Linked DNA regions of Homo sapiens: all the other regions are linked to region 2. Evidence: fine-mapped expression QTL. A gene starts in region 2. Each other region holds a variant in brackets. All regions are shown on one strand. Distances are from middle to middle. Region 1 overlaps SETDB2-PHF11 (SETDB2-PHF11 readthrough). Region 2 holds the start of RCBTB1 (RCC1 and BTB domain containing protein 1). Region 3 overlaps RCBTB1 (RCC1 and BTB domain containing protein 1).

Region 1 (10,528 bases), 54 kb after region 2:
CCAGGCTGGTCTCGAACTCCTGACCTCAAGTGATCCGCCCGCCTCGGCCTCCCAAAGTGCTGGGATTACAGGCGTGAGCCACCGTGCCCGGCTGGGATTTTCTTTTTAATGTGCCACTTTAGGTTGACCATATCTCTTCATTACCTTTCTGTTTCTTAAACTAACCCACATCTTAATTCTTTTCTCTGATGTCTTGAACGTGACAAAACACATTCTGCAGACTAAAGTGGCATTCTGCCTTTTACAACAATGTCTTTGAGCATAACTAGATTATGTGATAATCGTGCAGGAAATTCTTTCCCTTGTAGATCTTGCGTGTGTGTGTGTGTGCGCGCGCGTGTGTGTTTTGAAGAGTCGTACTTTGAGTTAGAGGACCATTGCTTTTACTGCGTTGAATAAATAGTATGTGTTTTTCTCACACCTACCTGTGGTCACCTTTTTGCCTAGTTTTAGGTATCTGGCCTCTCAAATATCTTTTCTGGGGGAGGGTGAGAGATTTGGGGTAAAGGGCTCAGAGAGAAGTAATTCAATCAAAGTTGCCTAAAAAAGCCATTTTTGTTTTTATTTTTGTTGTGTGTCCAGGATTTAGAAGAATTCTGCTTTAAGTTTTGCATCAATCATTTGACAGAAGTTACACAGACTGCAGCATTTTGGCAAATGGATGGCCCTCTGCTAAAGGAATTCATTGCTAAAGCCAGTAAATGTGGAGCCTTTAAGAACTGAAGCGCAAGGCTGCTGGGTTCTGTGTGAGTGCTCTGGGGCACTGTTGAGGATGTGTCCAGTTTGTGCTCTACGGGTGATGTGATTCTGCAGGTAAAAGACCATCAGGTTGTTTTTTTCCACATCTGGGACACAGTTGTTTGTGTAGGAACATAACAAGGGTGTACGGCTTTTCTTGAGCCCATTTTAAACAACCCTTGTTTCCAGATAAGTGTATTTTAAATGTGACCTTTCGTAAATTTGGGCTGGAACATGTAAAAGGGTGAAAGTTAGTCGTTTTTGGTCTTCTTTTCATTTTTGATTAGAGGAACTTCTGAACTTGGAAAGGGGAAGTTGGCAGCAACTCTCCTGGGCCACGTATCAACAATCTTCTGACAGCAGGAGCAGTGATAGTTGGGGAATTGTGAGATGAATGGAGAGGCCCCATCGTGAATTAAAGATGCTGACCTGGGGATTGTTAAGTGCTGCCTTAGTTGCTAGTTTAGTAGCCTTACTGTGAAGGAATAATTAAGATTGTTTCAGACTTTTGTTTGTGTGCTTGCGTTGATGACTTTTTTAACTTCAAGATAAATCAAAGTAATAAGTTTAACGTATATTAAACCTGTTGAAATGATAATTATGTAAAGATAAATATTCTAGGTTAGTCAAGATTTCTCTTAAGATTTAAGTGCATAAAGAATAGTAATTTAGAAGTATCCGTGAAAAGTTGATAATGAAAGAAATTTGATGAAGGTGAATATTTTATAAATTAGAATCTCCACTACTTATCCAATGGTGTTTTATTTCATTAAGGTAGAACTTGAGAACTCAAGTTTAAATTGTCCCCCACCACCTTCTTCTATAAATGCAAACTTAAGAGGAAAATAATGACATGTATAGTATACTCTTGCCTTCCTAAATTATGACTGCTGAATCATCATATCTACTATATATGACTGGAAGAAGTGGTTCTTCAAGTCAACCCTCTTACAAGACTTAGTGGAATTTGCTTTATCTACTTTAGGCCAAATCCATCACACATTGGCTTATGTGAAACTTTATCATCTTTCACTTTTGGTTTTCCTCTGTTTTTAAACATCTTAGGTATAACAGCACAATTTCACCTTGAAAAAGCACCAAAATTATGGTGTTCCTGAAAAGATCCTATTAAAAGACAGTAGTTTATTTGAACTGGTTATGGAAGGTGACTTTGGGATGTAAGAGTGTTCAACTGTGAGTTTCATCATGTGTGTCCGTTGAGCTTGCTTTTAAGAGCAATGTTTTGCTTTGCTCTCTGGTCCATGAACTCATTTCCATTTGAGTGAGTTCCCTTAGTGAATTTTGTCTCCTGCTTGGAAAGTCTCTCTTCTGAACCTGGAGCCTGAATACATTTTCAGAGCCAAATTACAAGTGGGTGAAGACATGCTACAACTACTATTTTTAGCAATGTTTTTAAATTTGTGTCTATTGGGGTGGGAAGGGGAGTGAGGCCCTAAAGATAGGAATTCACTGATAGCTGAAATAGATACAAGCCTAGGAGCCCCAGCCCCCTTTTCTTGACCATATCACAAGTGATTGAAGCCCAGTGAATTAGTCGGTTAGAATTCGTTCTACAACATGATAGAACTTTTCTTACTAGCTTCAGAAATGCACATTGATTTGTGCTATGATGGGTGGTGTTTGTAACAATCACTGTTCTATAGGCTTATGATCTGAGCAAAATGTGAACTTCAGTATGTTTACTATTGCTCTTACTTGAAAACTTTTTTTCAAAAAAAGCACAAATTAAAGTAGTAAATTCATATCCATAGATAGTTCATTCATTCAACAAATATTTACCAAGTTCCTAATATAAGTGAAGGACCACTTCTCATATTAGATTACTAAGTCATTTGTATGAATATGTGTGGCAGTGAAGAGAACAGGTCTTTCAAAAAGCATTTGATTATTTTTTTTAAATACACTCTCTTATTTTTCTACTTGTTTTTTTGTTAATCATAGCAGGATATGACAACTCTTATTTGAATTGATTTTTTCATCTAATGTAATAATGGAAGCCAAAGTATTCATATTTCTTAAGATAGCCCTAAATGTACTCTTGAACTTCTTACTGGAACAATGTTTGATACTCTAGTATGTAAGCTGTATTTATGTAATATTTAGAACGACATGTTAATAAACAAAGTAACATTAAAACAGGCACATAGAGTTGTTTTTTTCCTTCAAAATCAGTAGTCTGCAGCCTTAAAAAGGAAAGAAATTCTGACACATGGTGCACAGAGGTGAACTTGAGGATATTATGCTGGGTGAAATAAGCCACTCACAGAAAAATACTATGTGATGCCATTTGTGTGATATACTTAGTCAAATTCATTGAGACATAGTAGAATGGTCATTGCCAGGGTCTGAGGGGAGAGGAGAATGGGGAACTTGTTTAATGGATACAGAGTTTCAGTTTTCCAAGATGAAGAGTCCTTTAGGTCAGGGGTCCCCAACCCTCGGGCCACAGACCCATATTCATCCCTGGCGTGTTAGGAAGAGGTCGCACAGCGGGAGGTGAGTGGCGGATGAGTGAGCATTACTGCCTGAGTTCTGCCTCCTGTCAGATCAGTGGCAACATTAGAACATTAGATTCTCATAGGAGTGCAAACCCTACAGTGAACTGAGTATGCAAGGGATCTAGGTTGTGTGCTCCATATGAGAATCTAATGACTGGTGATCTGAGGTGGACCAATTTCATCCCAAAACCATCCTCCCCACCCCTGACCAACCGCCCCATCCCCATGGTCCGTGGAAAAATTGTCTTCCACGAAACCAGTCCCTGGTGCCAAAAAGGTTGGGGACTGCTGCTTTAGGTGCATGGTGGTGATGGTTGCACAAAAATGAATGTTTAATGCCATTGAACCATACATTTAAAAATGATTGGGATGGCAAATTTTAGGTTATATATATATTTTACCATAATAAAAAAAATCAGTGGTGTGATTCTTAATGGGTATCAGGCTAAAAATAGGTACCAGCATGAACATGTCAACTGCTTGATTCTCAACTATACACAAACAAACATCATAGAAATCTTTGGATTTTATTCCTGCTGAAGGGTAGTACAGTTGAACTGGCACAGTAGAAAAATGTGTCTGTACCTTTGGGGGTACTTGAAGGGAAAGGCATATTCCCTATCCTCAAAGAACATATGAATTATTAGGAGAGAGGGAGATAGGTTTAGGAATTAACAACACAATGAGATACTTATAAAGAGCTTTTCATAACAGTCAGTGAGAGAAAACCAAATAGGATGATGTGGTTTGGCTCTGTGTCCCCACCCAACTTATCTTGAATTGTAATCCTCAGTTGTTGAGGGAGACCTGTTGGGAGGTGATTGGATTATGGGGGCGGTTTCCCCATGCTGTTCTCATGCTATTGAGGGAGTTCTTATGAGATCTGATGGTTTTATAAATGGCAGTTCCCCCTGGGCTTTGCGTGCTCTCACTTACTTGCCACTACGTAAGACGGGCCTCTTCCCTTTCCGCCACAATTGTAAGTTTCTTGAGACCTCCCCAGCCATGCGGAACTGAGTCCATTAAACCTGTTTCCTTTATAAATTACCCAGTCTCTGGTATTTCTTCATACCAGTGTGAGAACGGACTAATACAGTTAATAGGGTTAACATGACAAGCAGTTAGTTGTTCTGAAGATAACGCTTGTGTTGGATAGGGGAAAATATAAAGTGTCCTTTTAGCTCATCTCCAAAACAAAAAGAGGCACAAGAGATGGGGGCTAATGAGCCTTCCAGAGCTTATCATAATTAAGTTTGGTTAGAATGGAGAAAATAAGACAGAAATGTTAGCAAGGGGAGTGTGTGCGTGCATGGGTGTGTTTTAACATTTATTTCCCATAGTGCCAGACATTGTGCTCTCTGCTTCACATTTTACTTACTTGTCCATATTTTGTCCCATAAGGTAGGCAGCAGCATTCTCAGATTAAATAATCGGATTCAAGTTTTTCAGTAGTGACATAGCTGAAGTTCATACTCGGCTCCGCCTTATGAACCCATACTCGGGTTTGCCCAGTAGCCAGCCTCATGGCCACCAAACACATGGTGCTCCATGGTGCACAGTTACATGCTGTGTGAGTCACAGGTTAAACGTGAAAGTAAAGTGGGGGACAAAGGTTTTTTTTTTTAAATAAAGATCATGACATCAGAATGATTAGTCAGATAAACTTTGCTAAGATGGCTGGGCGTGGTGGCTCACGCCTGTAATCCCAGCACTTTGGGAGGCCGAGGCAGGCAGATCACGAGGTCAAGAGATCGAGACCATCCTGGCCAACATGGTGAAACCCCATCTCTACTAAAAATACAAAAATTAGCTGGGCATGGTGGTGCGCGCCTGTAGTCCCAGCTACTTGGGAGGCTGAGGCAGGAGAATCGCTTGAACCTAGGAGGCAGAGGTTGCAGTGAGCCGAGATCACACCACTGCACTCCAGCCTGGCAACAAAGTGAGACTCCGTCTTAAACAAAACAAAACAACAACCAAAAACTTTGCTAAGACTTAATATCAGGATAGGAAGCTGAAGCTACAGTAATCAATAATCATCTAGACTAGCGGAAATCTGTTCAGAGGGTGTTGGATGGGGTCTTCACTTCTGTAGTTTTTAAAGTGCCCCACAT[G/A]ATTCTGATGTGCGGCCGGATTTGAAATCCACTGGTTTAGATTTTGTCCCTAAGATATAAGAACTTAGGCTAGGGCTGCCATTACAACTGGAATGGACTGTTCTTTTTCATCTCCTGCAAATATTTTTCCAGTACTTATTTATTACATGTCAGACACCATGCTTGGAGACTCAGTTAAAACCCATTTTGAGACGCAGCATTATTGAAAATCAGAGTACCATGGTAAAAAATGAGAACTGTGAATGTTAAGTTTTCAGGGGTCAGACGTGATAGTGTGGGCATAAAAACCAGAATCGTATATTAGATTGAGAAAAATGTAACTGTCAATTTTTTTTTTCATTCTTGCATACTCCCGATAATGTTCTTATTCAGAGTCCAATTTAAAATTTAGGTGTCTGTTTTGAAGATGATGAATCTCCACGTGATAACTGTGGCTGAAAAGAGACTTTTCAAAAGCAGACTTTGTGACACGAAAACAGGCAAATTTGGTACAAGTAAAGTAGTATAATCCAAATTTATTATATCTAAGAGGCTATCATGGGCTGTAAGTAGAATCAAAGGTTAAGAACATTTTATGCACTTATTCCACAAACATTTACTGAGCATACTAGGTGCTGGGAATGTGACAGTGAGCAAAAAACACAAGAGTGTGCAAAGAGTGATCAAAATGTCAACCAGTAAGAACAGGGAAGAGCTGCTGAGGCCAAGAGGAGACGACTAGTTCTAAAGATGTGTGGATTTCACAGCCTGGTCTCTGGTTTTGAGCCTGATTGCAATTTGACATGACTCTTGGCTTAGGAAACGGTAATCCCTAATAAGACAGGGATGATATTGATGTAGAACTTGACATAAGATCTCTATTTTCTTGAAAAGAGCACAAGGTTTGTTTTAAGTCCTGAAGTAGCTCAATCTCTTCCTTCAACTGCTGCCACCTTTGTTGAGATGCATGAATTTTTTTCTCTATTGCTATGAAAAGAAGAAATAAAATTATTTCAGCTTATTCAGTAGTTTTATTAGAAATAATGTACCATTTCTAGCCCCTTTCACTTGCAGGTACAGATACACAATCCTCGTGCCTCTGGTGAAAAGGATCCAGAGCCTTATGGGCAGGAGCTGGTTTCTTTATGCCTTCACTTCCTCCTTCTAATTCAGGACAGAATTCTAACATTTATCATACACAAAGCTGTTCAGTAAACCCTTAAGATTTTGTGCACATTTATAGCAGAACAAGTCCCTTTGTATATCTTTGAGAACTTGAAAACAGTGACTGTATAACCTTCATGCTATACTATATCCATTTATTGAGAGATGATAATTGGAGAATGTGGCTAGAATACCAAGGTTAAGGACAAATCCTTCCTAAAAATGTGTCCAATTTTTAATGTTACATAAAGGCTTTTGGTTTCATTTAGAAATAGGAAGGCTTTTAATTGTGGAAACTTAGAAAAGCTTAGGAGGAAGATACTTAGGCTTTATAAATAACAAATAGTAGTCAATGGCAATGTAATTTTTAAAAGCCTCAAAATCGAACAGTTACACACATATACAAACTTTATTCAGAATAACTGCATACGTATAGTTAACTTAAAATATGAGTAAGGCTAAATTAAGCAAGTTTTTATCAACCAGGGTAGTGAAACCCAACTTAAGCCTTTTAAGTTGAATCTCATGCAGTTCTAAGTAGTGGCACCCCCGCCATACTACACTATAATATATGTACTCCCACCTAATCCATCCAAGTAGTGATGTGTGACATGTTCCCTTACATGAAAGAAAAACACACATGGAAGTCCCCTACAAAATAACTCTTTTTAGAAAAAAATTTTTAAGGCTGCTTTAAAAAAATATGGATACTGCTATATATTAGCAGACATCCTCAAAAGACTATTAAGACAGACACTCTTTTTGGTAGATTTTTCAAAGTATTTTTCCTGCTGGTTATAAATGTAGTAAAAAATTCAAATAGAAATGTATAATATAGAAGCCAAAATGAGAAAGGTTGTGTATGTTGAGACAGGGATATGAACTAATGATTTCTTCACAGGGAAATCTTATTGTCTTCCTACCATATGCTGGAGAGACAGATGCATCTGTGGAAATGCAGAGTGTGGAGGGCACTCACTCTGTTGTGCAACTTCAGGGGGAGCCATCCACCAATGCTGTTTGACTCTGTGCCCGGCCTGCCCAGCTGTGTGTGGCAGCCTTGATAGAGAAGTCAGACCAGACTCATAAACAAGTGGAGGTGTAGCCTGTCTTGAGGGCATCTTAATGCTGAAAGGAGGACTCACTCAATAAATGGTTGATATTTAATAGGAAGGTTAAATCTCCCTCCTCCAAACCAAACGAGATTTTCTACTGCAAACATTTCTTGGCTATTCTTACTTGCTCATTTTTTGTTTGTTTGTTTTTGTTTTTTTTTTTTCTGATGAACTTTAAATCAGTCGTAACCCTCCCTGATAAGAAATTAAATTAGATTTGAGGATTAATAGTGGGAGAATTAAAATTTTGACCTATCTCACCAAGCGAGAGGGAGGCAAGCGGAGGGATGGTTTATCATAGCCTCGCCACCCAAGAGCAGAGAAGCCGCAGGAAGCTTTACCAGCTCCTGCCTGGGCCACACACAGGCCAAAATATGCTCCAATTTTTGAATCAATTTTTTGTTGTCTCTACTTTTTTAATGAGTTTTTCTCATTATAAAAGTATTTGTGTGTATATAGAAAATCTGGAAAATATAGCAGTAAAAGAACAGACAAAAATCACTATATTCCAACTACCTACAACCAACTACTGTCTCCACCAGGTGCAGCTTTTGTCTGTGCACATGTACCTCGATATTTTTTTCCTGTGTGTGTGGGCAGGTGGGCGGGGTCATACTGTTTTTGTAATTGGCTTTTCTCATTTAAGAAAACAATGAACATTCTTCTAAAATATTTTTATCACCTGTACAGTATATTGTTTCAATATCGTGATAAATATTTCTCAAAACTATGCTGCTCAGATGTTATATAACTCATATACCTGCTTGAAAATTTACAAATGTGTCTTCGAACAATCTACAGTCAAAAAGTGCACTCCCGATTTCTTCATAGTCTGGAGGGAGAGAAACATTTTCAATATTAAACAGTTTGTATAGGCAGAAACTCCTCCATTTATATATGTAATCCAAAACAGGGGAAAGGAAAGAGAGCAGTCATGTGCCATGGAACTTTAATGTTAGATGGCAACAGCAGCAGCAGCACTACAGGGAAGCTGTCAGAAATGTAATTCTTGGCATTTCTCTTTTTTCTTTTTTTTTTTTTTTTTTTTTTGAGACAGAATCTCACCCTGTTGCCCAGACTGGAGTGCAGTGGTGCGATCTTGGCTCACTGCAACCTCTGCCTCCTGGGTTCAAGCGATTCTCATGTCTCAGCCTCCCAAGTAGTTGGGATTGCAGGCGCGCACCGCCACGCCCGGCTAATTTTTGTATTTTTAGTAGAGACAGGGTTTTGCCATGTTGGCCAGGCTGGTCTCGAACTGCTGACCACAGATGATCCACTCACCTCGGGCTCCCAAAGTGCTGGGATTACAGGCGTGAGCCACCGCGCCTGGCCCCCAATTCTTGGTATTTGTACTGAATCAGAATCTCTGTGGGATAGGCCCAGCTATCTGTGTCCTCACCAGCCCTACAGGTGGTTCTCAGGCACACTGTTTGGGAAGTGCTTGGTCTAGAGGAAATAAATGAATAAAATAGTATAATAAATGAGCTTTTGGAAATGCTTACTATTTATTTCACTTTTTGGTTTTGCCCTATAGAAAATAATCCCATTCAAATAAACATTTTTTATATTGTTGCCTACAATATAAGCTGTCCAGCTTGTCCTTGTAAAATAACTATATTTATAATAAAGGTTTTAAACTCATGGGATATAAGTTATAAGAAAGCTAAGTAAGGCTGGGCACAGTGACTCACACCTGTAATCCCCGCACTTTGGGAGGCCAAGGCGGGCAGATCACATGAGATCAGGAGTTCAAGACCAGCCTGGCCAACATGGTGAAACTCCATCTCTACTAAAAATACAAAAATTAGCCGAGTGTGTTGGCACATGTCTGTAATCTTAGCTACTCTGGAGACTAAGGCAAGAGAATCACTTAAACCCTGGAGGCAGAGGTTGCAATGAGCTGAGATCATGCCACTGCACTTCAGCCTGGGAGAGAGAGCGAGACTCTGCCTCAAAAACAAACAAACAAAAAGCTAAGTAGCTATATACCTGCACATACAAATGGAACTTTGACTTCCCAAAGAGCCCTTAAGAAAGAAACTTCTTTAACAAAGTACATCTTTAAACCAAACATCAGTCAAAACATTAAAATTCCTTCTTCTATACTTTAAAGTTTGAGTTAACCTTATTTAAAAAAGGACACTTGGCTTATTAAGGAATAGAATTGGATTCCAAAATCAAAACTGTAACATAACACTGTTCTCAGATCTTAGCAACAGGAATGCAGGGCGGTGGCAGGGGAGCATATGTGACCGAATCAATCTCTGAATGGCACATTCTCTTAGTGGCCAACCTGTTAGACACCTCTGGAAAATGTACCACAACTCTCAGGGCATGAGGTTACTTTTGACTAAATTACTGAGTTTGTAAATTACCCACATCCTGTTGATTTATGAAGGATAGTAGATCTGGTCCAATTATTTTATTAAAGAATGAGGTAAAGGGCCAGGCATGGTGGCTCATGCCTGTAATCCAAGCACTTTGGGAGGCCGAGGTGGACGGATCACCTGAGGTCAGGAGTTCAAGACCAGCCTGGCCAACATGGTGAAACCTTGTCTCTACTAAAAATACAGAAAATTAGCCAGGCGTAGTGGCGTGTGCCTGAAATCCCAGCTACTCAGGAGGCTGAGACAGGAAAATCGCTTGAACTTGGGAGGCAGAGGCTGCAGTGAGGCAAGATCGCACCACTGCACTCTAGCCTGGGCAACAAGGGCGAAACTCCGTCTTAAAAAAAAAAAAAAGAATGAGGTAAAGGTAAAGAATGACAAGCTGGACAGCTTATATTGTAGGCAACAATATAAAAAATGTTTATTTGAATGGGATTATTTTCTATAGGGCAAAACCAAAAAGTGAAATAAATAGTAAGCATTTCCAAAAGCTGATAGAAGAAAAAAGTAGTATA
Region 2 (10,528 bases):
ATAAAAATAAAAAAATAAAAAAGCTATTTTGCCTGCCAAAGGACAAAGAAGCAATTTTATTCATTTTTTATTTTTATTTTATTTTTGAGATGGACTCTTACTCTGTTGCCCAGGCTGGAGTGCAGTGGCATGATCTCGACTCACTGCAATCTCTGCTTCCAGGGTTCAAGTGATTCTCCCACCTCAGCCTCCTGAGTAGCTGGGATTACAGGTGCCCACCACCACACCCAGCTAACTTTTGTATTTTTAGTAGAGACAGGGTTTCACCAGGTTGGCCAGGCTGGTTTCAAACTCCTGACCTCAAGTGATCTACCTGCCTTGGCCTCCCAAAGTGCTGGGATTACAGGCGTGAGCCACCATGTCCGGACAAACCTTATGATATTTTATTAGGTTCTTGACAGGTACTTTTCCCAACGTAATCATGTGTTAGCATTAAGTGGAGTGGTTCTCCCTTTTCACATGCTGGAGGTTAAGCCCAGTTTCTGTCTTAAAGTACTACCTGTTAATTGAATTATTTTGCTCTAAAGGAAAGGTTTGGAGTGCTCTAAAATAATCTTCTTTGGGGCCAGGCATGGTGGCTCACACCTGTAATCTTGGCACTTTGAGAGACTGAGGTAGGCAAACTGCTTGAGCTCAGGAGTTCGAGACCAGGCTGGCCAACATGGCAAACCCCGTCTCCACAGAAAATATAAATTAGCCCAGCCTGATGGCCCTCACCTGTGGTCCTAGCTACTCAGGAGGCTGAGGTGCTGAGGTGGGAAGATCACTTGAGCCCATGGAGGTTGAAGCTGCAGTGAGTTATGATCATGCCACTGCAGTACAGCTTGAGCAACAGAGCAAGACGCTGTCTCAAAAAATAAAAAAAATCATCTTCTTTGGAACAAGTAATTTTGGTATTTTTACATAATAATCATAGAAAGCTTTTGAGGCTGGAAAAAAAGGTAAAAAATCACCTCGCGTTAGTCCAAGCCAGTTTTATTCTTATTTATTTATAGGGACAGCGTCTTGCTATGTTGTCCAGGCTGGTCTTGAACTCCTGGGCTCAAGCAATCCACCTACCTTGGCCTCCCAAAGCATTGGGATTATAGGCGTGACCCACTGTGCCTGGCCTAGGCCAATTTTAGATGCAGAGCCTATGATGTGCCTGATAGAAAGTTATTCAATACAATAAATAACACCAATACCAGTAAATATGTCATTCTTTCAAGTATATTAAAATTAACCTAATTTGGTTTCCTTTATCCTAGATGTGAATGAAGTCATCAAGGCATCAATATAGGGTTACTTGTTTTTGTTTTTTTGAGACAGAGTCTCACTCTGTCACCCAGGCTGGAATGCAGTGATGCGATCTTGGCTCACTACAACCTCTGCCTCCTGGGTTCAAGTGATTTTTGTGCCTCAGCCTCTCAAGTAGCTGGGATTACAGGCACGTGCCACCACAGCTGGCTAATTTTTGTATTTCTAGTAGAGACAGGGTTTTCCAAAGTTGGCCAGGCTGGTCTTGAACTCTTGACCTCAAGTGATTTGCCTGCCTTGGCCTGGGATTACAGGCATGAGCCACTGCACCTACCTGTTTGTTTTTTCCTAAACAAATAGTACTGTTTCATGTGTCACTACTTTTGAACACATTGCTCTCTCCTGGAATGTCTTTTTCTTTCTTCTTATCTACTTCCTGTCCAACTGACCTTCTCATGAAGTTTCTCCCTGACTCCCTGATTTGTGGTCCCTGGTTTGTGTTCACTTAGCACCTTGTATCATAATACTTTTCACCCTGTACTGGAATAATGAACCAGACTACACATTCCTTATCAGCAACCATGTCTCATTCAGCTTTTAATCCTCCAAGATGCTCCAAGTATGGCATCTGACACATAAGCAGTGAGGGCTCAGGACATATTTGATTGCTCACACCCCATGCCCTCGTTTTTCTCTCAGACATGTTTACACAAGTTCTTTTGATCGGGTTGCAACCAAAAGAAACTGATTTTAGTTTCTTTGAGCAAAACAGGCCTCTTCTAGTAAATTCACTCAACTGCCACTACTTTGGGCAAGCCACTTCATTCAGTGAGTATTAAGGGTCTATCACATGCCAGGCGCTGTTCTAAACCCAGAAGAATCCTGTTTCAAAGAGTTTATAATCTAAGGGAGAAGACAGCAATAGACAATTCACCTTTTACAGGAAATGCGCAGTCTATTTCTGGGCAGTGTGAGGTGTATCAGAATATATATAGTATTCTGGAAATCAGGGAAGAAGTTGCAGCTGACACTGTCTGGATGAACTTCAATTGCTAAAAAATCAGGGAAGAGGATGCTGGGAAGACAAGAGTAGGCGGCATTTGACCTGGATTTTGAAAGATGAGTAGGAAACTGATGTGTACTTTGGAGGCTGTTGAAGAAAACCAGAGCCAAACAGTAGTTGAAGTGGTAAAAACATTTTATTCAGGAACTAGTGCAACAGGAGCGAGACCTCAGAATAGATACAGAACTAAGCTCAATTCTCTTATTGCATTAGTTTCTTAATACCTTTTTTTTTTTTTTTAATCATTGGCCCTGGTTTTCTTTAAGTGGGGGAGGTGGTGATTCAGGACATTTCAGATACAGACAAAAGAATGAACAAAGCAAAAAGGAGTAAAGAAACTTAGAGAAAAAGTAAATAATCCAAAGAAAGTTGAGTAGTCAAGGAAAACAAATTATTTGTAGCCAGAGCCTCCAGTAATGTTGGGGAAGTGGCAAGAGATGAGGGACGGTAGGACTTTTTTAATAATTCAAGTTACCAAAAGTGAAGTTATCTGGTGATATTTAGAAAATGAAATGTTTTTCTGTTTATTCCTAGGAGCTCAAATGGGAAAGGTAAGTGAACAAGTGGCTGGAATGCTATGCCAACAAGTTTGGATTTTATCCTGCAGCGCCAACTGGGAGTTCTCCGAGAGCTGTATGGTATTTTACAAAGGGACTGTAGTCTTTATAGGTGATAGGCTGGAGCAGCTCGTAGCAGTCCCTCTCCTGGCCTCAGTTTACTCGCTGGTAACACGAATCCGGTTGGACCAGATGCCCTCTTAGGTCCCGTCTAACCTCTATGGCATGCTTCCGAGGTACCTCTGCCTCTTTCCAATACCAGGACCTGTGCCTCATCTCGTCCTTCCTTCATACCTTTGTCCAGCTGCCACCTTCCCTAGTCCCTGGCCTGCCTCAGGTACTTTCAATCAGGAAGTGAGGGGCGGGGAGGGAGGGAGGCGCGTCTCCAGTAAAAACAAACTAGTCCCAGCTCCGCCGCCTTTCCTCCCAGGCAGCACCACCTGGGTGGTGCCCCGGGGCCAGACGCGCTCTAGAGTGGGCAGGGAGCCAAGTTTCTCGGTCGCTTTTCCGTCCTAGGTCTCTGGGGTGGTAGGCCGACCCTCCCCACAGCCAAGCCATCTCGGGGAGCAGAGCAGGAGCCCGTGCCTCGCGCGTTCCTGGTTCCTCAGACACAAAAGCCTCTAAGTCCCGGCAGCAGCCACCGGATTTCATGGGGACACTCCAGTGGCAGGGCCTCGGGGCGGGCCTGAGACGGCCAATCGGCTTCTAAAGAAGTCGGGTTGTAGGGCCCGAAGAGCAGGGTTTCGGCCGGGGCCGGGGCCGGGGCGGTGCGGGATGCTCGGCTGGGTAGCGTCCCGGGCGCGCGCTGCACCGGGTCACGTGAGGCGGCCGGGGCCACGTGACCCGGCGGGCCCGGCGCCCTGGCGCTCCTCCTCTTCGCTGCCGGTGGGCACCGCCGCTCGCTCGCACTTCTGCGCCCATTGGAGCTTCGGAGATCCCTGCGGTCCCGCGGGACGGCGCGGCAGCAGCTGACCTCGCAGGTAGCGTGTGGGCGCGGGGTCGAGCTCGCGGAGGCCTCTTCCCCCTCGGCCCTGCCCCTGCTTCCCTTCCCCGCAGGCCGGGCCGGGAGTGCCCCGTTACTCCTGTACCTCCCGCCTCCCTCGCTCGGGCTCCCGGGCAGTCCCTGCGGGCGCTGCGTCCGGGGCGAGGGATGGGGTCCCCGGCCCGGCCCCGCCAGCACCTCAGCTAATGTGCTCTCCTGCGAGGAGGAGGGAAGGATGGGGAGAGGCGAGGGAAAGTTTTCCCTGCCTCCCTCTCTTTTTTGAGGTGCACGGACTCGATTTTGCTCGTAGCTGAAGTCTGACTGCTGTGGGTGCCGTTTTACTGAGAGGAGATCTCCCCTCCGACTCTTCCTATTCTCTCTCCTTTCCAAGATCTTAGCATCTCTCCTTCGTCTCCTGAGAGTAGTGCTGTCACAAACCGTATTCTTTATCGTTTCCCTTTCCGACACAGAATCCACAAAGGCAGGGATTTTGTTAGTGAGGACTTTTATCCAGGCGTGCGGTGAACTCTAAATAAGTGACGTTTCCCTTGTCTGCCTCTGATAAAGTACCTACCTGCTCGGTTTAAGATGACTATCGAGCACGCTGTGTTCTGCTCGCATAAGTGGCCTTTTGTTTTTATTTATTTGCATGTAAGACACTTTCAAGCCATCTGCGGAACTCTGCAGCTGGGGATTACAATTTTATAAAGCAGTCTTGTAATAATGCTTTTAGAAAACCAGATTCATGATCTTCCTTGCTTTTGCCCTATTCTTTTTTTGGGAGGACTAAAAGCCCTTAGAGGACAAAAACTGAGTTTCTGAAACTGGTGTGTATTGTGGGCTAATAACATTAAAACATCAAAGTATATAATGCCGGAAGGAATGGAAAAATGATTGAATCCTGAGGGCAGTTTATAGGTGCTTTAAACTTTAGAGTACTCATTTCAAGTGAGCACTGGGTGAATTTCACCCGTTTAAACTGCTTTCAGGGTCGAGGATGTAACTGTATATTTGGATTCTATTAATATAACAGTTCATCTGTGGGATGGACTTTAATCCATTTAATCCATTGTGTGAATATCAGTCTATTTATTAATACTCTAGACGGGTCCTTTTTCTTCTACCCGCTAGTCTGTTTCTCTTGAAGAGGAAGCATATTCATCTTTAAAGAGATTTTTGCAAGTGATTTTTTTAAGTGTGTGATCCAAATGATAAAGTTCTGTGAACTTCAGAAAACAAGTAGCCATAAAAACCCAAAGCTGTCAAGCTTGTAGCTTTTAAAAAATGATTTGAAAATTTTAAAGCGTGCCCGTATGCTGCAGCAAGAACTTGGCTCCACCTAATATACGGGAGCTGGGAAGTCTGAAACAGTACCCTCCTTTTCCTGGGAGTCATTGTGGGGTAGATGAAACTGTGAAGGAAAGTGAGGACCTTTATTATGATGATGATATCCCTTCTGTGTGTACTACATTAAACAGTAAGTCATGCATAGGAAAGGAGGCTGGGGCCTCACAGAGTCTAGAATCTAGGCAGGGCATTCGGACACATTTCAAAATATTCTCTGGTTTTACAAAAAGTTAAAAATGTTACATATTGGCCAGGCGCAGTGGCTTACATCTGTAATCCCAGCATTTTGGGAGATTGAGGCGACAGATTACACGAGGCCAGGAGTTCAAGACCAGCTTGGCCAACATGGTGAAACCCCGTCTCTACTAAAAATACAAAAAATTAGCTGGGCGTGGTGGTGTGCGCCTGTAGTCCCAGCTACTCAGGAGGCTGAGGTACGAGAATTACCTGACCTGGGGAGGCAGAGGTTGCAGTGAGCCGAGATTGTGCCACTGCACTCCAGCCTGGGCGACACAGTGAGACTCCATCTCAAAAAAAAAAAGTACATGTTGTGTACGTGCTGAAGAATGCACAAGAGGGGTATGATGAGTGTTGTCTGAATTTAGCCAGAATAGACTTAGTAGAGGAGATCAGTTAATGAAATAATTATATAAGTCAACTGTGTGTTAGATCACATTTAAAACACACACACACACACACACACACACATACACAAAAGCACACTTCTTTCCTGGGGTAGAAAAGCTCACAGAGGAGACCAGATGGGTACCTCTAAAGACTTACGGTCTCCAGCTTTCTCTGGGCTTGGTCTTACCATCCTGCTAGGTTTCTCTGCTCAGTGCTCTTTCCCATCCTCCCTGGTGACTGCTTCAGACTTCACCATTTTACCCCCAATTGCTCCACTCCACTTTTTTCTTTTTGAGACAGGGTCTCACTATGTCGCCCAGTCTGGAGTACAGTGTGCCATGTGATCATAGCTCACTGCAGCCTCAAACTCCCAGGCTCAAGTGATCCTCCCCACTCCCAAGTAGCTGGGACCACAGGTGCGCACCACCACATTCGACTAATTTTTTTATTTTTTGTAGAGACAGGGTCTCCCTATGTTGCCCAGGCTGGTCTTGAACACCTAGCCTCAAGCAGTCCTCCCGCCTTGGCCTCCCAAAATGTTGGGATTACAGGCGTGAGCAACCACACCCGGCCTCCACTCCACTGTTTATTGCTACCTCCCCTCTTACTCTTAGCAAAAAGCCTAACTCTTTCTTCATAGGGGAAAAATAGGTGACCTCAGAAGAGAATGGTCTCCAAATGCCAATCAAAACCATGAGATACCACCTCCCATCCACTAGGATGGGTATAATACAAAAGACAGTAAATACTGGAGAAAGCAGCACTGTTGTACATTGCCGGTGGGCATGTAAAATGGAGACTCAGCGGGGAGAGAGAATGAGAATGAGAGAATGAGTATGTCTCCAGCATCTGGATTCCTAACCTTTAAACTGGCTTTCATTCACATTCACCCTTTCCTCCTCCTCTTGTGGAAGGAAGAAAAGGAAGACTTGCTCCTTTCTACAGTTTCTCTTGCATTTATTTATTTATTTATTTATTTAGAGACAGAATTTTGCTTTTGTTGCCCAGGCTGGAGTGCAGTGGTGTGATCTTGGCTCACTGCAACCTCCGTCTCCCGAGTTCAAGCGATTCTCCTGCCTCAGGGTCCTGAGTAGCTGCGATTACAGGCACCCACCACTATGCCCAGCTAATTTTTGTATTTTTAATAGAGATGGGGTTTCACCATGTTGGCCAGGCCGGTCTCGAACTCCTGACATCAGATGATCCACCTGCCTCGGCCTCCCAAAGTGCTGGGATTACAGGCATGAGCCACTGCGCCCGGCGCTTCTGTTGCACTTCTGCTTCAGATCCCATTCCCTGCTACTTTCTTAAGGCCCATTGAGTTGTTACATCCTCTCCTCTTTGATGTTTCTACTGGCTCCTTCCCATTAATTCAAACATGTTCAAGCCTCTAACAATGTTTACATTAAAAAGGTTAACAGAAAACGTCCTGCAACTCTATCACATTCTGTGATTACTATGCGATTTCTCATTTTTCCTTCAGAGTGAAATTTCTTGAACAAGTTGTTTATACTCATGGTTTCCTTTTCTTCACCTTTCACATACGCCTCAACCTGCTGCAACCTGGCCTCTTCCACCCACAACCTCAGTGAAACTGTTCTTGTTAAGGTCACTGATAATTCTCCTTGTTAAATCCAATGGAAGTTTCTCCACCCTTCCCTCGTTTGGTGTCTCAGCAGCATTCGACACTAGCATGCCTCTTGCCTGTGATGCTCAAGTCCCCAGATCTCTGTGACACTCTGTCTCCTGGTTTTCCTCCTGGTCTACCTCTTCCTTCACAGTCCCTTCTAGGGGGTACTCCCTGTCCCTTTCCCGTTGGAGTTTCTTAGAGTTCTTCTTAAGGTACTCTGCTCTCCTTATTTCACTTGCTTTTTTCCTGGGTGATTTCATGCCAGATTTCCAAATCTCCAATCCAGACCTTTCTTGAGCTTCAGATTTCTAAATCCATCTGTTGGGACTTGTCCACTTTAATATCCCACAGGTACCTGGCACAAATGTCCATAGTAGGACTCATCACCCCTGAGGCCTGCTGTGCTTTCTGCTGTAGTGAGTGGCAGCACAGTTCTCTCTCACTCAAGCTCAGCGTCTGCCTGTGATCTTCGGCTCTGCCTTTCTGCTTATCCAGTGCTCCTTGTCCCATTCAGCCAGTTGCAGAATCTTCTTGATTTTCCTTCTTGTTCAATTTTCTCCATTTCCCTAGTGTGGGCTTCAATCCCTTCTTTTCTGGCTTACCATAGCCATCTGGACTTCCTCTAAGCACTCCTTTGTCGTCTCATGTCTCTGTGGTCAGCCAAAGTAATCTTTCATAGACCTACATCTGTTTATGCCACTTCCCTGCTTAAGACCCTTCAGGGATTACCTGGTGCTCTTAGGATAAAGCCTGAGTTGTTTGGCTGCAGCCATGCTGACTTTCTTTCAGTTCCTCCACCAGAGCCTTACCTGGCATGAGTGCTCACTGTTGCAGGCGCCTGCTTCTCTTTAGGTAGCTGAAGCATACTTCCCAATTCTGTTGCCTCCACAGCATCTGACCAGCCACACTGTTGTGAGCATCTGTTTATGTGTCTAGATCCCCCAACCCCATGTAATTTCTGTTGGTGTTGGCTCTGTGTCCTGTTTACCTAAGAAAATTTATTGAATTAATAGTGTATGGTTCTGCCAGTCCATTGCTGGAATTTCAGTTTGGCTTTAGGTCATTGCAGGGTACAGTTGATACTTTTCATACAACTGGGGACTAATAGATGAAATCACTTTTGGGGTATCCACATGAGAAAGATTCATGAAACCATATTTAGATTTGAATTTGACCCACCAATTCCAGCCTTGAATTCATTTGGAAAATAAAATGAAGTATTATGTTTTATCCATTTCTTTTTTCTTTTTCAGACAGGATCTTGCTCTCTTGCCCAGACTGGAATACAGTGGTGTGAACACGGCTCACTGCAGCCTCAACCTCCTGGACTCAGGTGATCCTCCCACCTCAGCCTCTTGAGTAGCTGGGACTAACTACAGGCGCACACCATTATGACTGGCTAATCTTTTTATTTTTAAGGAAATGGAGTCTCGCCATGTTGCCCAGGCTGGTCTTGAACTCCTGGGTTCAAGTGATCCTCCTGCCTTCGCCTCCTAAAATGCTGGGATTACAGGTGTGAGCCACTTCACCCAGCCATCTATCCATTTCTTTAAACTTTGACCCATCATTGGTTTTTTTGTTCTGTTTTGTGACACCTGTTTGTTTGGTTTAACAAAGAACAAACTTACAGAAAAAACATTATTTCTAATCATCGATATTTCTTTTCTGGTTTCCTTTTGAAAACAACAGTATCCTATAAAAGCAATACTTTTATAAGATCTCAGTCAGCTGCACAACCCTAGATATGTTATTTTTTTCACTGCTAATGCTATTGCCACTTGGTTCGTTTGCTTTTCGAGCACATGGCTGAGGTTAGAAGTGAGACGAGATGAAATGAATGAGATGAAAGCAGCCCCTTGGATGATGGGGCTAAAGAAATGCTTACAGAGGCCATTATTGCAAATTGTGCTTCAAGTCAAATAACTTATTAGTGGTTGGGAAATGACAGTTGTAGGAACTTACATTTTCCTCTAAAATTAGTGATGAATTTGAACAAAACTTATGAAACAAAGGGTAGGCACAATCAGAGAATTCTAAAACACTAGTCATACTGTTCTCTAAATGAAGGTGGGGGTATTATCTTCACTCACCTGTACAGGTGGCTTCAGCTTGAAGGATGACAAACTACTTTGGGAGAAGGCTACATTCTCAGACTCCTTAGTCAAGCATTCAGGGCATTCTTCCTTTCCCTTTCATTCTTTTTTTTTTTTTTTCTGAGACAAGTCTCGATCTGTCACCCAAACTGGAGTGCAGTGGCACCATCTCGGTTCACTGCAAGCTGTGCCTCCTGGGCTCACGCCATTCTCCTGCCTCAGCCTCCAGAGTAGCTGGGACTACAGGCGCCCACTACCAGGCCCGGCTAATTTTTTTGTATTTTTAGTAGAGACGGGGTTTCGCTGTGTTAGCCAGGATGGTCTTGATCTCCTGACCTCGTGATCCGCCTGCCTCGGCCTCCCAAAGTGCTGGGATTACAGGTGTGAGCCACCACGCCCGGCCTCCCTTTCATTCTTGTAGTACTGTGTGTTTGCAGAAGAGAGACGTGGATGACAGCTGTTCTAGCAGCTGGGGCAATAACATATTAGTGTCTCAGCACATCTTCGAAACTTTGCCTGTGATTTGCAGCCCTTATACCATAGAGTGGGTGAAATGGTTTTAAGTTTTATTTTTATTTAAAAATGTTTGAGGCTGATTCTTAGAGGCTTATCTGGACCTGGGAAATACATTTGGTATCTCAATGAGACAGCATTTGCTCAGTCTCAAAAAGCCCATCAGAATTATATGTAAGAAATTGGTAAGAGTAACATTTGGCTGTTTGTACCTTGAGAGGGTTTTTGAATTGCTTTTGCTGTAGCATAGATGGAAGACATTAAGTTGTAATGTTGTATACCAAAGTTTACCCCAAACCGTAGAGCTCTCTTATTTGAATGTTTTTCTGGAATTAAATGGATTCAGAAATAAAGATTGTCATACCCTTCAATCTTTTGTGCTCAAATGGAACATTTATTGCTAAAAAAGGAAGAAGGCTATGAAGAACACTTTGTTCTTCTAGGAAACTGGATGATCTTCACTGAGGAAAGGCTCACATT
Region 3 (10,528 bases), 25 kb after region 2:
ATTGTCTAGGGTGGCATTTGGGAGATGATTTGCATCCCGGCCTTTCTTTGTCTAGACTGAGGAATCACAGCTTCCTAGAATGCTGTCACAGGTTTTAGTATCTAGCCTTCTAAGTGCCTGTAACTCCTAACTGAATCTACTTCAAGTTCTCTGCATCTTTCTCAAGAGAGCTGTGAAATCCAAATCTGAGCATCATCATGTGGTATGAATATAACTGGAGTTGAGCATAATGAGGTGATTATCTCACTTTTGCCTTGCGTAATCATGCCTTCTGGCATCACACTGGTTCTTTCTTTCCTTTTTTTTCTTTTGAGACAGTCTCGCTCTATCGCCTAGGCTGGAGTGCAGTGGCACGATCTCAGCTCACTGTAACATCAGCCTCCTGGGTTCAAGCAATTCTCATGCCTCAGCCTCCGAAGTACAATTAGAGGCATATGCTACCATGCCTGGCTAATTTTTGTGTTTTTAGTAGAGACAGGGTTTCTCCATGTTGACCAGGCTGATCTTGAACTCCCGACCTCAGGTGATCCACCCATCTCAGCCTCCCAAAGTGCTGGGATTATAAGCATAAGCCACTGTGCCTGGCCTTTTTTTTTTTTTTTTTTTTTTTTTGAGGCAGGGTCTCTCTCTCTCTGTCACCCAGGCAGGAGTACAGTGGAGTGATTATGGCTCATTGCAACCTTGACCTCCTGGGCTCAAGCGATCTTCCCACCTCATTTTTAAATTTTTTTGTAGAGATGAGGTCTCACCATGTTGCCTAGGCTGGTCTCAAACTCCTGGGCTCAAGTGATCCTTGTGGCTCGGCCTCCCAAAGTGTTGGGATTACAGGTGTGAGCCACTATGCCTGGCAACTTTTGCTATTTTGTATGTGACTGTTTTTTCCTCTTTGGAAGCTTCAAGGATCTTTTTTTTATTTTTATTTTTATTTTTTTAAGTATTGTGACATAATCATGATTCTGTACTCTGGTGTAATTTTTAATTTATTGTATTGGTCATTTCTGGAAATTTCTTCTTGTAATATTTCATGAATAGTTTCCCTTGTTGGCTGTGTGTGGTGGCTCATGCCTGTAATCCCAGCACTTTGGGAAGCCAAGGCAGGACGTTTGCTCCAGGCCGGGAGTTCAAGACCAGCCTGGTCAACATAGCGAGGCCATGTCTCTTAAAAAAAAAAAAAAAAAAAAAAAAAAAAAAGCCGGGGATGGTGGCACGCACCTGTAGTCTCAGCTACTCAGGAGGCTGAGGCAGGAGGATCAGTTGAGCCCAGGAGTTTGAGGTTGCAGTGAGCTATGATTGCGCCACTGCACTCCAGCCTTTGTGACAGAGTGAGGGTCAGAGTGAGACCCCATCTCAAAAAAAGAAAAATTTTCTTCTTTGTTTTCTCCTTTATGGAATTTTTCTTAGAAAGTTAGAGATTCTGGAGTGATCTTCCAAATTTTTTTTTTTTTTTTTTTTTGAGACAGGGTCTCTCTGTCCAGGCTAGAGTGCAGTGGTGCAATCTTGGCTCACTGCAGCCTCACTGTGTGAGCAGGTGGTTCACACCTGTAACCTCCTGGGCTCAAGCAATCCTCCCACCTCAGCTTCCAAAAGTGCTGGGATTACAGGTGTGAGCCACCATGCCTGGCCTGATCTTCATGATTTTTTAAAAATGTTCTCTCCCATCTGTGTTCTGGGAAATTTCTTCAACTTTATCTTACAACGCTTATGTCAAATTTTTAACATTCCCATTGTTTTATTTCCAAGTGTTCTTTCTTGATCTTTAAATGTTTCTTTCCAGAACTTGTTGCTATTGTTTCATGGATTCAGCGTCTTCTATTTGAGATTATTTAGAATTACAGGTTATTTTAAAATTAACCTTTTTTTTTTTTTCTTTGAGATAGAGTCCTTTTTGCCCAGGCTGGAGTGCAAGGCACAATCTCAGCCCACTGCAACCTCCGCCTCCTGGGTTCAAGCAATTCTTGTGCCTCAGCCTCCTGAGTAGCTGGGATTACAGGTGCGCGCTACCATGCCTGGCTGATTTTTGTATTTTTTTTTTTTTTTTAGTAGATGTGGGGTTTCACTGTGTTGGCCAGTCTGGTCTTGAACTCCTGACCTCAAGCAATCCACTTGCCTCGGCCTCCCAAAGTGCTGGGATTACAGGCAAGCCCAGCCTCATAGAAACTTGTTATAGGTTTTAGTAACTGGTAGAATTAGCTACCTTCTTGCTTTTTTTTTTGTAGGGTTTTCCTATTTATTCTTGTTTGTTTATTCTTCCCATTAAACTTTCTAATCAATTTGTCTACCTCCAGAAAGTAACTTTAAGCTTTTATTGCTATTTAAACTTTATAAGTTTATGTAGGAAAAACTAGAATCTTTATGATACTGAATTTTCCCATCTAAGAACAAGGTATGCATTTCTCTATTTAAGTCTATTTTTCTGTTTTCAGGGGTTAAAACACTCATTAGTTTGGACATTTCTTTCACCTGCCGTAGCTTTTAACACAATATCATGGATCATACTTTTTGTGTTTTATACTCTTTCTTTCAGTCTTAAGCCTCATCTTTCTCAGGATGAAATTTCCCATTTATGGTTTCTGTCATAATTTCTGTAGGAGGGAATGGCTCTTGTGAGCCACATGTCACCTGGAAGAGGACTCTGAGTTTGTGTGGGCTGTCTTCGTTCTACAGTAGACAAGTAGAAGTCTGTTTCCCCTGGTTGCCTGGGGACTGCTGTGAGTGACCAGCAGCCTAACTGTAATACTTGGATTTCTGCTGTTGCCCTTGAGTGTTGTTGCCAGGCAGACTGTCCTTAATAGGTCAGGATGTTTTATTACCATGGGAAAGATAAGAGGAGAATGTGTAACTCTGGGAGACCTGCCCTTGGCACTCGGGGGTGCTGTGGAAAGAAATGCCTGAAACGATGATACTTCAAGAGATAACACAAGAAAAGTTGTCTTCATCAGAATCTCAGAAAAGATAAAGTCATTATAAAAAAAATTCAGACAGAGGAGCTTCCGGGTTGGTGACCACATCGAGGTGCTGGGAGGGGGTGGCATGCCAGGGAGGGCATGGGAGCTCCGTGCACCCCTCATCCCCGCATACCTTACCCTGTGTGTCTCCCCCATTTGGCTGTTCCTGAGTTGAATCTGTTAGAATAAGCTGATTATGCTTTCCAGAGATAGTCACAGCAGTGTGAGTGACAATGCCTCCAGGTGTTGCTAGTCCTCAACTCTCAAGTCATCTCCAGCCTTTTAATCTTCCTGAGATCACACACACTGTGAAGCAAAGACAAGCCATCTTCATTGTCCCCTGTCCAAATTCCTGACACAGAATAAATGAGCGTAAAAAAATGGTTGCTTTATGTAAAAAAAAAAAAAAATTCAGCCAGATTTCATGCCACTAAAATAAAATAGTCTGCTTCAAAGAAGCCCTGAGACTTTTGTTTCCTTTGTAAACAGTCTATCTCTTTCCCCTATACTTGGTGAGCGAGTAGCCACACGCCCCCTGTGGGTTCCCCGTGACTTGGTATTTGGTTAAGCAATGGTAAACATTAACATCGAGCTTTCTTATCATCTGCCTTTTTCTTGGCATCTGACACAGAAACTATTGAGATGAATCAAAGCTTTTAGAAAGCCTAATTCTTGCATACGTAAACTTTGCTTTTGATCACAAAACTGATCTTTCTATGTTATTACCAAGTTTTTTCTTTAAAGATTTTGCATCTGTCTATCCCGTTCTGTCACCCATCTCTCTCTCCTTTACTCTGTCCATGGTTACTTAATAGAGAGGAGGGGGCAATGGGAGAGAAATGAAGGTTGGAGAAGGAGCTGTACGAAGTTCTGGGGAAGAAAGTACAGGGTTACTATTTCTTTTTGGAGCTGATTTTTTGTGTGCTTTGTGTGCACAGATGGAGTGGTTTATGCCTGGGGCCACAATGGATATAGCCAGCTTGGGAATGGGACGACCAACCAAGGCATTGCTCCCGTCCAGGTCTGTACCAATCTCTTGATCAAGCAAGTGGTGGAAGTAGCTTGTGGCTCACATCATTCAATGGCTCTGGCAGCTGATGGAGAGGTAAGTATGCTGCTTTTATTCTTTATTCTTTTTTTTTTTCATCATAGTAAATACACTTAACATAAAATTTACCAGCTTCACCAGTTTTAAGTGTATAGTTCAGTGGTGTTAAGTATGTTCACCTTGTCATACAACTGTCACCAGCATGCACCCACAGAACTGTTTCATCCTGCAAAACTGAAACGCTGTCCCTGGTAAACATTCACTCCCATTCTGTCCTCCCCCAGCCCCTGACAACAACTTTCTTTTTTTTTTTTTTTTTGAGATGGAGTCTCGCTCTGTCGCCCAGGCTGGAGTACAGTGGCACGATCTCTGCTCACTGCAAGCTCCGCCTCCCGGGTTTACGCCATTTTCCTGCCTCAGCCTCCCAAGTAGCTGGGACTACAGGCACCCACCACCACACCCGCCTAATTTTTTGTATTTTTAGTAGAGACAGGGTTTCACCGTGTTAGCCAGGATGGTCTCGATCTCCTGACCTCGTGATCTGCCCGCCTTGGCCTCCAAAAGTGCTGGGATTACAGGCGTGAGCCACCGTGCCCAGCCAACAACTTTCTACTCTGTTTCTTTGAGTTTGATTACTCTAGGTACCTCACGTAAGTGGAATCATACAATGTTTGTCCTTTTGTAACTGGTTTATCTCACTTAGCATAATATCCTCAAGGTTCATCCACTTTGTACCATATGATAGGATTCTCTTCATTCCTTTTCAGGGCTGAATAATATTCCATTGGATACATATAGTAAGTGCCCACATAATGTCATTGATAGATTCTTGGAAACTACAACTTTAAGCAAAAAGACATGTAATGAAACCAGTTTTACCATTGGCTAATTGATAAAAACAAGAGTTAAGTTCCTATGGTATATTTCTGGTCACAAAGACATCACCAAACTTCTGAAGACCCAAACCACTTCTTAAACATTTAAATAAATGCAAACTAATACATATATTTAACAAAGATTAATAAAAGCAATAAGAGAATTATTTACCCAATTTATGGTGAATCACTGAGTTGGGGTGATCATAGTGGTGGTGGGTTAAGTCAAGGAATAAATGTTTGCAAAGCAAAAATTACAAGGGGCACCTCCTACTGCCACACAGTTCAAAAGCAAACGATCACAAATGTGACAGCTCACTGAGGGTGTTTGACTGTGTTGTTTATTGTTATGCATTTGTATGGTTATTGTCTACTTTGTGAATTTTTTTTTTTTTTTTTTTTTTGGAGACAGAGTTTCACCCTTCTTGCCCAGGCTGGAGTGCAATGGTACAATCTCGGCCCACTGCAACCTCTGCCTCCTGGGTACAAGTGATTCTCCTGCCTCAGCCTCCTGAGTAGCTGGGATTACAGGCGCCTGCCACCATGCCTGGCTAATTTTTTTGTATTTTTAGTAGAGACGGGGTTTCACCATGTTGGCCAGGCTGGTCTCGAACTCCTGACCTCAGGTGATCCTCCCGCCTCGGCCTCCCAAAGTGCTGGGAATACAGGCATAGCCACCATGACAAGCCTACTTTGTGAATTTTTATTTTCTAATAATTTGTATTCATTTATTCATTCATTCATTTTCCAACCCGTTTGTTCCAGTTCAGGGTTGCATGTGGCCACAGCCTCTTCTGGCAGCGCAGGACACCAGGTGGGAAGCAGCCCTGGACAGGATACAGGGTGCACTCATGTATACCCCCACACTCACTCTCACTAGAATCATTGAGACATGTATACAGCTTAGACACAAACTAGTCTGCACAGCTTTGGGGTGTGGGAGGAAATCAGAGTACCCAGAGAAAACCCACACAGACATGGGACATGCAGACTCCACAGACAGTGGCCCTGGCCGGGAATTGACATTTTTTCTCATTAGTGTTATAACAAAATGATGTTGAATGAAATGACGTTTTTCAAGGACCTGCTGTAAGCCACACTTTGTTTGTCTATTCATCTGTTCATGGATGTTTGGATTTTTTCCACTTTTGGCTATTGTGAAAATCCTCTGATTTTAATGACCATATTTGTACTTGATGTGGTGTGAATATTGTAGCCCTGTGCATGTAGCTAAAAACCTTGTGGGAGTGCACTCTCTCTCTAGCATAACGTGTATTGTATAATCAAGATTACACTTTTGATGGCAGTAGAATTCATTCTTTTAAAAAAAAAATTTTTTTTTGTAGAGACAAGAATCTGGCTATGTTGCCCAGGCTGGTCTTGAACTCCTGGGCTCAAGCGATCCTCCTGTCTCAGCCTCCCAAAATGCTGGGATTATAGGTGTGAGCTACCGCACCCAACCTAGAGTTCATTTTTTAAGGCAGCTGAGTCCCATGCTCTTTGCTAAGACTATAGCTCAGATGTGTGACAGTGTTCTGTACTTTTTTTTTTAGTGACCCCATCCTTAAGGTCTATTTTATTTTTCAGTATATGTAATGAGTTTGGAAAAAATAACTTTACTATCCTCCTAGTAGGTACTGTAACACTTGTTAAGCCCCCAAGTTGTGCTTATCTTAAAGGTCACTCATCCTATTGATTCTGTCTTCTAATCTTTTGTACCATCTCCATTTCCTCTCCATTTCCTTTGCCTTTTTGTTCCTCCATTTTGTTCCTCTCCATTTCCATTGCCTTTGGTCAAGTCTTGTCATTTCCTGCCTAGACTACTGCCATAGTCCCTTCTATTCCCTATCTTTTAAGTTGATCCGTCTGTCCAGTCTTGCTTTGCTGTCCTCTCTGGTTTCTAACACAGATTAGATCATACTGTTCCTCTCTTTGAAGTCCCTCAGTGATGTTACAGAGATTTTATTAAGTAGGACAACTTATAAGTGAACAAACCCAAAAGCTCAGGGAGACCAAGATTTCATGACTGGGATGTGCTGGAGCCAGGCATAGCACACAGGCCTCATGCCCCAGATCCACTGTTTCCTAGTCCATTTCTTGGTTAGTGGAACTATAGCCCCAGTTTTTAAACAAGAGTCAGCAGCACTGCAAGGGAATGTGATGT[A/G]TTTGAGAAGTGCCAGAAGAATGATTGCTGAAATTAGCTCAAACTTGCTAATTTATGCCGGCTGGGTTCCTGATTTATTTTAATCTTAAGCATATGGTACTTTGAATAATTATACTGAATATTAATATTTGCATAATTAAACTAGATATTTATGTGAATATACTTTGAGGAGGTGTTGCAGGTTATTTGTTTTGTACCTGTGAAATGAACCTGTAACACATATACCAGAGGGCTCTACTGTTGTTGCCTTGGCCAGCATCAGACAAGAATCATGGAAGCCACACTCAGTATATACGTGGACCACCTCCTGCAGCCACGTGAAGCAGGGTGGGGAGCGGGGGCTTAGACATTTCCTAATGTTGGAGGAAATTATTTCCTCTACTGCCAACACCTCCCTCCCTAATTCATCTCTCTGTTTATAGTCTTGTTTAGAATGGTTTCCATGAGGCTGGGCATGGTGGCTCACGCCTGTAATCCCAGCACTTTGGGAGGCCGAGATGGGTGGACCACGTGGTCAGGAGATCGAGACCATCCTGGCTAACACGGTGAAACCCCATCTCTACTAAAAATACAAAAAATTAGCCGGGCATGGTGGCGGGCGCCTGTCGTCCCAGCTACTTGGGAGGTAGGAGAATGACATGAACCCGGGAGGCGGGGCTGGCAGTGAGCTGAGATCGCACCACTGCACTCCAGCCTGGGGGACAGAGTGAAACTCTATCTCAAAAAAAAAAAAAAAAAACCAAAGCAAAACAAAAAGAATGGTTTCCATGGAAAACAATGAATATTTATGCCCAAAGAGTTGAGCAAATGTTTTACATCACTAATACTTATGTGGCATATACCGCATTTCCTATTGATGCCACATTCGTATGTGTGTATGTGTAGTTGTGTGTGTATACACACACACACAAATTATAGAGGGAATGTAGCATGGTGGTCAAGAGCATAGCTAGACTGCTTGGGGTTAAATTCTCTTAGCGCTACTTACCAGCTTTGGTACCTCAAGCAAGTCACTTAACCTCTCATGTTTCAGTTTCCATGTATAAAACGGAGATGTATAAAGTGGGTACTACCTACTCTAGGGTCACTTTGCAGGATTACTAGGCAGGTTAAATAGGTTAATGTGTGTAAAGCATATAGAACCGTTTAGCACATCTTAAGTACTCATTAAGTAGGATAATTTTAATTTTTATGATTATTTGTGTTGGGGTAGAATTTTCACCCTGACTATTCTTTCCTTTTCCTTTTTCTTTCTCTTGTAGGTGTTTGCTTGGGGTTATAACAACTGTGGCCAAGTGGGATCAGGTTCTACAGCAAATCAACCAACTCCTCGAAAAGTTACAAACTGTTTACATATTAAGAGGGTAGTTGGCATTGCCTGTGGTCAGACTTCATCCATGGCTGTTCTGGACAATGGCGAGGTGAGGTGTCTCCACTCCCATTTCCCTTTCTACCTTCTTTTTCAATTACACGTCAGTTTCTTCACAAGGTGAATGTATCAGATGGAAGAAGGAAGAGTGCTTTGTTTTGGTAGCTCCATTGAAAGTTAACTGATTACTGACTGAGGAGCTGGAGGTTTTTTGCTCCTCAGTATGACTTTTCTAAATTCCAGGATTTACCTGAAAGTAAAGATTCTATATGTCTAAGTTGTATTTTTTGCAAGATCCAAAGAGCCTAATGCCTATAGCTATTTGTTCGTGATATTTAATGTAATAGATTAAAGAATTTAATCCTACCTTTCTCTTCCAATGAAACAATGTCAACTGTACATTTTAAAATTAACTGATGAAGTCCTTGTAGAACTACCTACCTATATCTTGAATGTTCACAGGAGGAAGCAACTTGCAAAAGCAGATTTTTTGTGGGGTCCTGACTGTTGTTAGCTACTTTTAACAACTGTCCCTTTAGTTACCCCCTACTGTGGTCACTTTTGAGCTGATGGTTATTTCTGTGAAATTAGTCTCTGGATGCAGCTTCCACTTAAATAGGCTATTTACTACCTATGCATATTTTAGTGCATGAAAATTATACAAAGATATTACCCTGGACACAGATGTTTTGGCATCATGCATTGGTGTGCTTGGGCAGTGGTCCCCAACCTTTTTGGCACCAGGGACTGGTTTCATGGAAGACAGTTTTTCCACAGATGGCGGTGTTGGGGGCATGGTTTTGGGATGAAACTGTTCCACCTCAGATCATCAAGCATGAGTTAGATTCTCATATGGAGCGCACAGCCTAGATGCCTTGTTGTGCAGTTCACAATGGGGTTCGTGCTCCTGTGAGAATCTTATGCTGCCATTGATCTGACAGGAGGTGGCGCTCAGGCAGTAATACTCCCTTGCCCGCTGCTCACCTCCTGCTGTGCGGCCCGGTTCCTAACAGGGCACGGACTGGTACCGGCCTGCGGCTCATGAGCTGGGGACTGGGGACCCCTGTGCTAGGGTGCTTTAGAGTTTATGCATAGACCTTATGTTAACTTATTTTTTAAAAAATCAATCTCAGTATCATGAAATGACTTCAGAATTCCTTGGGATGGCCGTTGAATATCCTCCATTCCAGTATTCTTCTCTTATTTTTAAAAATAAGTTTAATTTTTAGGTTATTATTATATGGTTATTTTAACAAAGTAAAGGAAGACAAGTGAAACAGATAAAATAAAAAGTGAATACCTTTTCCCAATCTTGTTAATAGTTTCATGCATATCTTTTTGGACTTTTCCCTTAAACAATTATATATGGGTGAGTATAATTATCTTTTTTTAAAAAAATGGGATGATTATACCTACTGCAGCTTTTCTCTGCTATTCTTCAGCCTGCTTCCCGCTCCCCTGTATAGCATCCTGTGTTTATCTGTGTCTGTGATCAGACCATTTATGCGGCTTTCCATCATTATGGCTGCTGACTTTGGCTTCTGTGAATGACCCACATACAGAGCTCTACTGATGAACATGTCAGTTTTCTAATTTTTTGCTGTTATAGACAGAGTTGTGGTGATTTTCTATGTTACTCTGTGTATGTGTATCTTTGTACACTTATACAAGTATTTCTATAGAATAAATTTCCAAAGAATTTCTGGGTCAAGAAGTATGCCATTTGAAATACTGATAGCCATTGCCAAATTTCTCTCCAGAAAGTTCATGTCTGTTACACTTCTGGCACTGGGTGAAAGTGCCTTTAACCATCTCTCCCCAGGCCCTTAAAGTCCATTCCCCCTTTCCGCTCCATCATGTTACCCTGAAAAGCCCCAGTCTATGTCTGCCGCCCTACATTGCTGTGGGGCTCGATGCCACCACAAATCTTGGGTTTGTAATTTGAGCAAGGCCTTTATTTGTTCCTGGTCAGTACTTTTTCCTATGGCTATTTGGAACCTTTAACACTCCTGTCAAACCTATGCCTAGCTCTGTTACTTTCAGCAGATGGGCCTCCTCTCACTCTATATCCAAGGGACTGTCACGTTCTGGGAAGTCTTCTATTTTTAATCCTCTTTCCTCTGCTTT

Evidence for each region. PIP is the estimated chance that this variant, and not a neighbour inherited with it, causes the effect.
Region 1: its variant is fine-mapped to the expression of RCBTB1 in whole blood (INTERVAL, PIP 0.99).
Region 3: its variant is fine-mapped to the expression of RCBTB1 in whole blood (TOPMed, PIP above 0.99).

Annotation. Positions count from the first base shown.
Region 1 is chr13:49,524,317-49,534,844 of GRCh38, reverse strand. It overlaps SETDB2-PHF11 (SETDB2-PHF11 readthrough), which reads right to left. Exons shown (of 21, transcript NR_135324.2): 19 at 8,908-9,072; 20 at 8,387-8,458; 21 at 5,869-6,334. It overlaps PHF11 (PHD finger protein 11), which reads right to left. Exons shown (of 10, transcript NM_001040443.3): 9 at 8,387-8,458; 10 at 5,869-6,334. The coding sequence ends at 6,180. It overlaps RCBTB1 (RCC1 and BTB domain containing protein 1), which reads left to right. Exons shown (of 13, transcript NM_018191.4): 13 at 583-2,899. The coding sequence ends at 723. Among named protein-coding and RNA genes, the nearest start is that of PHF11, 34 kb to the right of the region's middle. The variant G/A (reference allele first, on the strand shown) is at 5,369.
Region 2 is chr13:49,578,752-49,589,279 of GRCh38, reverse strand. RCBTB1 (RCC1 and BTB domain containing protein 1) reads left to right here and starts at 3,722. Exons shown (of 13, transcript NM_018191.4): 1 at 3,722-3,836; 2 at 8,696-8,775. RefSeq lists a silencer at 3,489-4,198.
Region 3 is chr13:49,553,440-49,563,967 of GRCh38, reverse strand. RCBTB1 (RCC1 and BTB domain containing protein 1) reads left to right here. Exons shown (of 13, transcript NM_018191.4): 5 at 3,884-4,050; 6 at 8,295-8,453. Among named protein-coding and RNA genes, the nearest start is that of RCBTB1, 27 kb to the left of the region's middle. The variant A/G (reference allele first, on the strand shown) is at 7,033.